Linked DNA regions of Homo sapiens. The protein of the gene in region 1 purifies or fractionates together with the protein of each later gene. This does not show direct contact. Each region holds a gene or a part of one and is shown on either strand. Other genes may lie near its edges. The genes, in order: STPG2 and GDA.

Evidence for each region.
Region 2: the proteins of STPG2 (region 1) and GDA purify together in Homo sapiens (affinity purification with mass spectrometry; one large-scale study listed by BioGRID and IntAct). This does not show direct contact.

Annotation. Positions count from the first base shown.
Region 1 is NC_000004.12:98,140,520-98,144,774, reverse strand, and holds the start of STPG2 (sperm-tail PG-rich repeat-containing protein 2), read left to right. Parts: upstream 1-1,298; 5' UTR 1,299-1,624; coding exon 1,625-1,733; intron 1,734-4,255.
Region 2 is NC_000009.12:72,155,907-72,159,724, forward strand, and holds part of GDA (guanine deaminase), read left to right. Parts: intron 1-2,913; exon of another isoform or gene 2,914-3,107; intron 3,108-3,818. UniProt on the Homo sapiens protein: Catalyzes the hydrolytic deamination of guanine, producing xanthine and ammonia.

The DNA.
Region 1 (4,255 bases):
TGCAATATTCATTTTCCTACCATTAAAAAAAATCTTTGCCACCTCTCGTTTTGGATTATACGTCTCTTTCCCCATTAGAGAGAGAACACCTGAGGGCAGGGACTTTCTTATGCCTTTGTATCCTCATAACTTAGCAGGGATGGAACCTACAGTATATGCCAATTCGTGTTTTTTAAGTGCATAAATAATTTAGCTAGCTATTGAACAGAAAAAAAGGTACTACAGATACATCCTTGAGAAGCATATAGCCTCGCAAGGAGAGGGTTCCGACCTATATGGCACAATGAAGCCACAGTAAATGTTGCACAGGATTGAGTGGCAAATCGTGTATTACAGAGTATGAAAACTATAAAAACTTGTAGTAGGAACAAATTAACGTACTGTAGACCATTTGGAGGTGAGGTATGATCAAGGTAGGATTTGTCTAAGCCTCTGAGGATATTTATAATCTGGACAGAATTCTTGCTAGAAAAAACAGCCTGCGAGATGCAGAGGTGGATTCTGACATAGATTCCTTAAGCCCCAAGGACAAGCAAGGTTTCTTTTGCCCAAGGTTCAGAATCATTGGTTTGGTGGGGTGGACTGGGCTTTTTCAGTGCCTTCGCTTTGCTTTTTAAATATTGATGAATCAGTATTGTGGTTACCTGGCATACGACAAAAGAGGCAGCTTTCAGTCACTTCCACGGCTTCAGTTGGTGAGCTTTTCGCCTCCTTGCCTGGTGTCCTCATTTCTTTTTTTTTTTTTTTCTTTTTTACCCTTATCTTATTTGTTATTTTTTTTTCTGGGTTCTCCATTTCTTGTCACTGCCCTGAGCCCTGGGTTTGTCTTAGCAGTTTGGACTATCTACAGGTTAAGATCAGAGGTGCCTTTTCTCTGTGAGTACGAGTGGGGCTGCAGTAGAAGCGGGGGAGAGCTTGCGGAACCCCAAGCTCTCTGCTTCATGCTACTGCATTTTTCTTTACTAGGTTCTGTTGAGTCGGGAAGCAGATCAAGGTCAAGTTAGTCCTCACCCTTCCTAACGCGTTTTCTAAGGTTCTTCTGCATACTTAAAAAAGTTCGGGACCTAAGTAGTTACCGGGACCCCAAGAGCTACGAGGTTTAGGCCTGCCTTCTTCAAGGCGCGCCGGGTTCCGGGTAAAAAGAGCCGGGAAAGGGTGGCTGCTCGGTGCGCATGCTCCGAGGGCTCGGCCCAGGAAGGCACCTCCACTTCGCTCCCTAGAGACTGGGCCCGCCTCCTCCCCAGAGACTGGGCCCGCCTCCTCCCCAGGCTTCCGGGCGGAGAGAAGTGGGCGGAGTCAGGGCCGGAAGCACCGGGGCGAGCGTCTAATCCCTAATACCCAATTTTGGTGGCGTGCACCTGGCAAACTGATGATTGTGTGGGACGTCTAATCTCTAGTCGCTCACCCCTCTACTTTACCACAGAGCTAGAAATCGATTTGAGGAAATCTGGTATCAATGAGCGGGCGGGGAGACAACCCCACCCCTAATTTCCCTGTTTACGGAAGTTCTTTCCCGGCCTCCTCAGACTGGTGTCGGCTTCCTTTTTCTCCACACTTCTAGCTACCTTGTTTTTATCGTTTTCGGCACCTGCCCTTCCCCAGCGCCCCCACCACCCCGAGCACTATGTATGATCGGGCTCCCCGCCTGCTCAAATTGGCTGAAGGTGGCAGCACTGAGGCCCATGTGGGTCCTGGATCCTACCAGGTACCTTTCCTGAAGCAGCAGGCGACAGGTAAGATGTAGGAAGAGGCAGAGCTCCTGTGACAGGCATCCTATCTTCAGCCTGCTCCGCTTCTGCGTGCTTGTGAGTTAAACATAGAGCGGAATAGTACCATTTTGTAAACATAACAAAACATGAAGTAGGCAGGGAAAACACTATACTTTTATTTTACAGATGAGACTGATAGTATCACTTGTCCCATTTCAAAAGGCTGGTGAGCATATGGCTAGGACTTTTGATTCCGCAATAGTTGTCTACATCCTACTTTTGATTGTGCAGTTTAGGTCTAGGATTTTGATTTCCTGGCTGTGTTGACATAATATATGAGTCTCCAAATCCTGTGCCCTTACCTCCCGCTGTCTCGTTGCTTTGTAATCCTGCCTGCCTCACATCTTTCCTCCCATTAACCAGAGACATTTATTTATTAAGATGTAGCTTATATTTCTATTTTGCAGTATTATTTAAAGATAGTTCCGTTTTTTTTTCAGACAGATTTTTCTGACCGTCCTCATCTCTTTTAACACACTTCAGGGGAGCCCCTTTTCTCCACATTCTGTAAAGAAAAATTATATTTTTGACCAGTGGAGTGGGGATGGATAATTTAAATAATATTTGCTCTCCTCGTTTGTTTGCAGTTAGTGACTTAGTCAAAAATAAATACATCAATTTTGCTTTCTACTTTTTCTATTCTGGTGATTTTCTGGAGCTTAATACCGTCCAAATGATAGTTTTTCTTAACCTACATTTTCCCCATACCTACACTATGTATTTTCAAGCAAATGCCAGGATCCATTATTCTGTTACATAACTGATCAGATAAGGGAAGGTTTAGGTTTCTTGGGGTGGAGTACAAATTTGACTTCTGTCAGTGTTTCACATGTTGAATTGTACTGCTTCACAGTATCTGGTATCACTATTCTTGCAGCTTATTCTATCTTTATTTTAATGGAGTTGGGCATTATAAGCATTAATTCCCCTAACAATGGCTAACAATGACCCCCTGTGACACTTTGCAATCCTTAATTTTGACATAACTGACCACTTTATTCTTGGAAACACTTCTTTCCAAAATGTAACATCATTTCCTCCTGTTTTTTTTTTTTTTTTTTTTCCCAACTACTGTCTTGGAAGAGTGTCTGGGAACATGATTGGGACCTAATAAACATTTGTTAAATGCCGAATCAGGGCATCATCTTCTCCCCCTCTCCAAGCAGTCCTTCATGGCCTTCTTTAAATGTTTTTATGTTTCTTGTTGATGAAAAGAGTCAAACTCTGTAAAATATTTTAAGAGATTTATTCCGAGCCAAATATGAGTGACCATGGCCTGTGACACAGCCCTCAGGAGGTCCTGAGAACATGTGCCCAAGGTGGTTGGGGTACAGCTTGGCTTTATGTATTTCAGGGAGGCATGAGTTATTAATCAAGTACACTTAATAAATACATTGGCTTTGTTCAGAAAGGCGGGACAACTCAAAGTGGGGGCTTCCAGGCTATAGGTAAATTTAAACATTTTCTGGTTGACAATTGGTTGAGTCTATCTGAAGACTGGCATCAAAAGAAATGTTCAGGTTAAGATACAGGATTGTGGAGACCAAGTTTTGTTGTGCAGAGGAAACTCTCAGATAGCAGACTTCAGAGAGAGGGAGCAGGTTGTAAAATGCTTCTTATCAGACCTAAAAGAGTGCCTGGCTCTTAGTTGATTATCTCCTGCATCTGGAAAGGAAGGAAAACGAAGGGGAAAGGGTATTCTCTATAGAGTGTTGATTTTTCCCACAAGAGACTTTGCAGGGCAATTTCAAGGTATGGCAAGGAAATATATTTTTAGGTAAAACATTTTGATTTTTTTTCCTTGTCTCATAATGTTATGCCAGAGTCAGATTGGAAAGTAAGCCACTATATATAGGATTAAATAAAATCCATCTGATAAGAATGTATAGTTTGTAGGGCGTGACTCCCTAGACCCCTTAGATAGGAATTTGGGCAAAATAAAAAAAATCAGAGCTTAGTCCTCATTTGACACATCTTTAAATGTTTATGTACTGTACTTCCAATCCTTTGCTTGTTACTTTTCTCGTGTGTACTTTCTCATTTGCTATCCATATTCTGATTCTGATGACTCCCAGAAGGAAATCTTAAGAGATACAGGTGATTTATGTCTCTAAGGTGAGCTTTCTCCTAATCTTTCGGCTTTCAACACTGCCAATCACTTTTGTTTGTTTTTCTCTTCTTTTTAATTCTTTTTTTGTTGCTGTTGATGTCCTTGAGTCATAACCAGTTACTTTTTTGAACATCTCTACCTAGATGGTCTCCGGTATCTGAAGTTTTAAGTGTCTGAGCTCATAATTTTTTCCAGCAATACTGGTCCCTTTTAAAATTTTTTTCCAGCAATACTGGTCCCTTTTTAAAAATTCCCTATTAGTCTATAATAAACTTTAAGTTTTGGAATTATTCTAGACTCTTTTCTCCCTGACTACTCCTGTTGATCATTAACACCTAATGATTCTATCTTCTCAGTGCCTGTTTGATTAGTTCCT
Region 2 (3,818 bases), on another chromosome or scaffold:
TACTATGGTCTACCTAATAGGGTTGTTGAAAGGATAAAATGGATTAGTAAGTGTAAAATATATAGAATAATGCCTGGCATGTAGTACATGTCCATTAGACTTCAGCGGTTATTGTCAGTAATGCAGATGGAGAGGTGGATAGAATCAGTAGCTATTTAGATCAAGTTGACTGGATTTGATGATAGCTTACATATGTAAGGTTGGAAGGTAAGTGCATCAAGAGTGATCGCAAAATGTATGTAAATGTGTGTAAATAGTACAGTGGGGCACAAGTTGACCAGTGATAGGAAAAGCTTCTTGAAGGAAGTAGTAGCTGAATTGGACCTTTTAGGACTGGAACATGCAAAAGAGGATTATATAGCCCTGGTGAAAAGAGTGACCCAATGTTCTTCAGTTCTGAAGACTGCTGGGAGGAGGAAGAGTTCTTTCTCACCTGAGGCTACTTTACCAGAAGTTCTCTCAGTCTAAATCACAAATCCTAGTGATTGTGTATCATCCTTTCCTCCACTTCCTGCCAAGCTCAGCAACTCAAAATATGCTGTTGGTCCTGAGAAAGGAAACTGGGCTAATCCCTTCCTTCTGAGGCTGCTGAATAGGAGCTTGGCTTTCATCAGAAAGATGCTTTCACTCCCAATTATTACAAGATCATCTTGCAAATTCCCATTTTCTAGAAGGCTGATTGCTTGTTCAGAATGCTCATGGCAAACACTGTTGGTTACCCACTCAGCAGTCATGACCTCTTTTTCCTTATTAACACCTGAATTTGATCAGTCCATGGTAGACTCAGCCTGTGGATACATCATGGTGTAAGCCAGTCATGGTAATCCTATCTCCATTTATCAGATACTTATTCTTCCAGCTTCCTGGTAGCTGAGGGTGACTAGTGATAATATTCTGACATACAGGAAGTTTGCTCAGAAGCTTCTAGGATGTGGGAAGAGAAGCCCTGCCTTTTTTGGATACTCTCATATGAAGAAAAGATACTTGGAACTGCTGCTGCCACCATGTGAGACTGTGAGGAAAAGGTTAAGGGGATTTCAGAGACACCATCCCATTTTCTAACATCACTGAGCAGTTGAACTACCCCTACCTGGAACTGTCTACTATCAGACTTCTAGACTTCCTTTTTTTTTTTTTTTTTTTTTTTTTTGAGATGGAGTTTCACTCTTGTTGCCTAGGCTGGGGTGCAGTGGCGCGATCTTAGCTCACTGCAACATCCGCCTCCTGGGTTCAAGCGATTCTCCTGCCTCAGCCTCCCGAGGAGGTGGGATTACGGGCACTCACCACCATGGCCAGCTAATTTTTTGTATTTTTAGTAGAGATGGGGTTTCGCCATGTTGGGCAGGCTGGTCTTGAACTCCTGACCTCAGGTGATCCACCCACCTTGGCCTCCCAAAGTGTTGGGATTACAGGCGTGAGCCACGGTAGCCAGCCCAGACTTCTTTTGTGAGATATGAAATGTCTTTATTGTCTAAATCTCTGTTAGTTGGGTACTGTTCATTGCAGCCCAATGCACCCTCATTACTACACTGCTTTTCAATGAACAATATTTTACACTTTACAAGAATAACTACCTTCTCCTTCTTCTCCTTACTGGCCTTTCCAGGCACCCATATCAATAGTCAAGCCCAGCCAATTTTCCTCTGGGATTTCTGTGTGCATATTCACTTCCATTGCCCCCATCTACCCTTTAGTGTCTCTGAGCTAAAATATAACAGGAGACCCTTAACTGTTTTCTCTCATTCTAGTATTTCCCCCACATTACTGAAAACTCTTTTCTTGGACCATGGGTAGTATCATGTATCTACTCTTCTATAACCATCTATGGCTCACTATTGCCTCTAAGTTTCAAATGTCCTGGAAGATGTTCTAGGCATGACATTATTTGGCCCCAACCTGTTCTCTAATTCTTTCTGTTGCTTCATTTATCTGTCTGGCAAGTGGGAATAGGATTACCATGACTGATTTACACCATATTGTATCCATGAGCCAAGGGATGTCTATCCATGCAAATTTCTCCCTGTTTTCCAGCACATCATGTCCTTTTATGCCTCCACATTGTTGGCACCAATTTCTTTGCCTGGAATAGTCCTCCTTTTTATATCCCCATTTCCATTTTACTTCTATCAAAATGAAATCTTGCTCTTCCTTTAAGGCCCAGCTCTGATCTTCTCTTTTTCACAAAGGCTTTCACAAAGGCTTTATTCCCAAGTTGAAATAAATTGCCCCTTCCTCTGTTCTTCCATAAAATTTTTCATATATTTCAAATCAGTATTTTACAGGTAGTTAAGAACATGGTTTCTAGAGTCAGATTATGTGAATTCAAATCAAAACTCTGCTACTTACTAGGACAAATTTTCTGACATAGCTGAACCTCAGCATCCTCATTTAAAAATGTGGATTAAGGCTGGGTACAGTGGCCCGCACCTGTAATCCTAGCACTTTGGGAGGCCGAGGTGGGCTCATCACGAGGTCAGGAGATCGAGACCATCCTGGCTAACATGGTGAAACTCCATCTCTACTAAAAATACAAAAAATTAGCTGGGTGTGGTGGCAGGCGCCTATAGTCCCAGCTACTCGGGAGGCTGAGGCAGGAGAATCCCTTGAACCCGGGAGGCAGAGCTTGCAGTGAGCTGAGATCATGCCACTGCACTCCAGCCTGGGCAACAAGAGCGAAACTCCGTCTCCAAAAAAAAAAAAAATGTGGATTAATAGCACCTTGATAGAGTTGTGAGGCAAGTGAGATAGTGTGTTGTTATTATTTTTCTTTCTCTGAAGTAGTTATTCCAATTTGCCTTTGATTATACTTAGCTTTATAGAATGTTCTCACTCACTGAAATGATTTAAAGTTTTTGGAAAAAGAGAGATGAACTGGAGAAAAGGTAACACTTACTAAGTCATACTGTATTTCAGACAGTCTGCCAAATCCCTTACAAATCAACAACCTTGAGACAAGGTAAGGACACCATCATCATCATCATCATCATCATCATCATCATCTCTACTTTACAAATGAGGAAACGGAGGCTCGGAGAGTTACTTGGCTGCAGTCACAGCAAATAAGTGGCAAAGGCAAGACTCAGAGCCATGCCTGTCTGATGTCCAAGGTCCGTGCTCTCCAGGAGTCTCTGCTGTCTTCTGTCATGGAGAGGGCCAAAACTCTATTGTCCTAAGGCCCCTTCAACATTTCATGTTGTTTTAGCACAAAGTAGGTGGTCAGTAAAGTGTGTTGAATGTGATGTGTAATACAAAAACGAGGCAGGCAGATCACAAGCTCAGGAGTTCAAGACCAGCCTGGCCAACATGGTGAAACCCCGTCTCTACTAAAAATACAAAAATTAGCCAGGCATGATGGCAGGTGCCTGTAATCCCAGCTACTCAGGAGGCTGAGGGGGAAGAACTGCTTGAAACCAGGAGGTGGAGGTTGCAGTGAGCCGAAATTGTGCCACTGCACTCCAGCCTGGGTGACAGAGTGAGACTCCGTCTCAAAAAAAGAAAAAGAGAAAAAAAAATGAGTGATAGAACAAACCTTTCTCAGCAAACCCCACCTTAAAACCCAACTGTGTCAATATGAGTTTATTTACAGCCCATTGATTCATGAATTAAAAAAAAATTGAAGGCCAAAGCAATCACAAGGTAATTATAATTTAAAGTGAGTTATTCTAAACTTACATATAATGATATAAGAATTTTAAAATTCCAAGATTCTCCAGAAGCTTAAATGGAAAAATAAAGTGCATCATAATCATACATTCCCCACCCTCACACATGCACACCCTTATACACTCATCAACAAAACACAGTTCTGGAAGAAGATA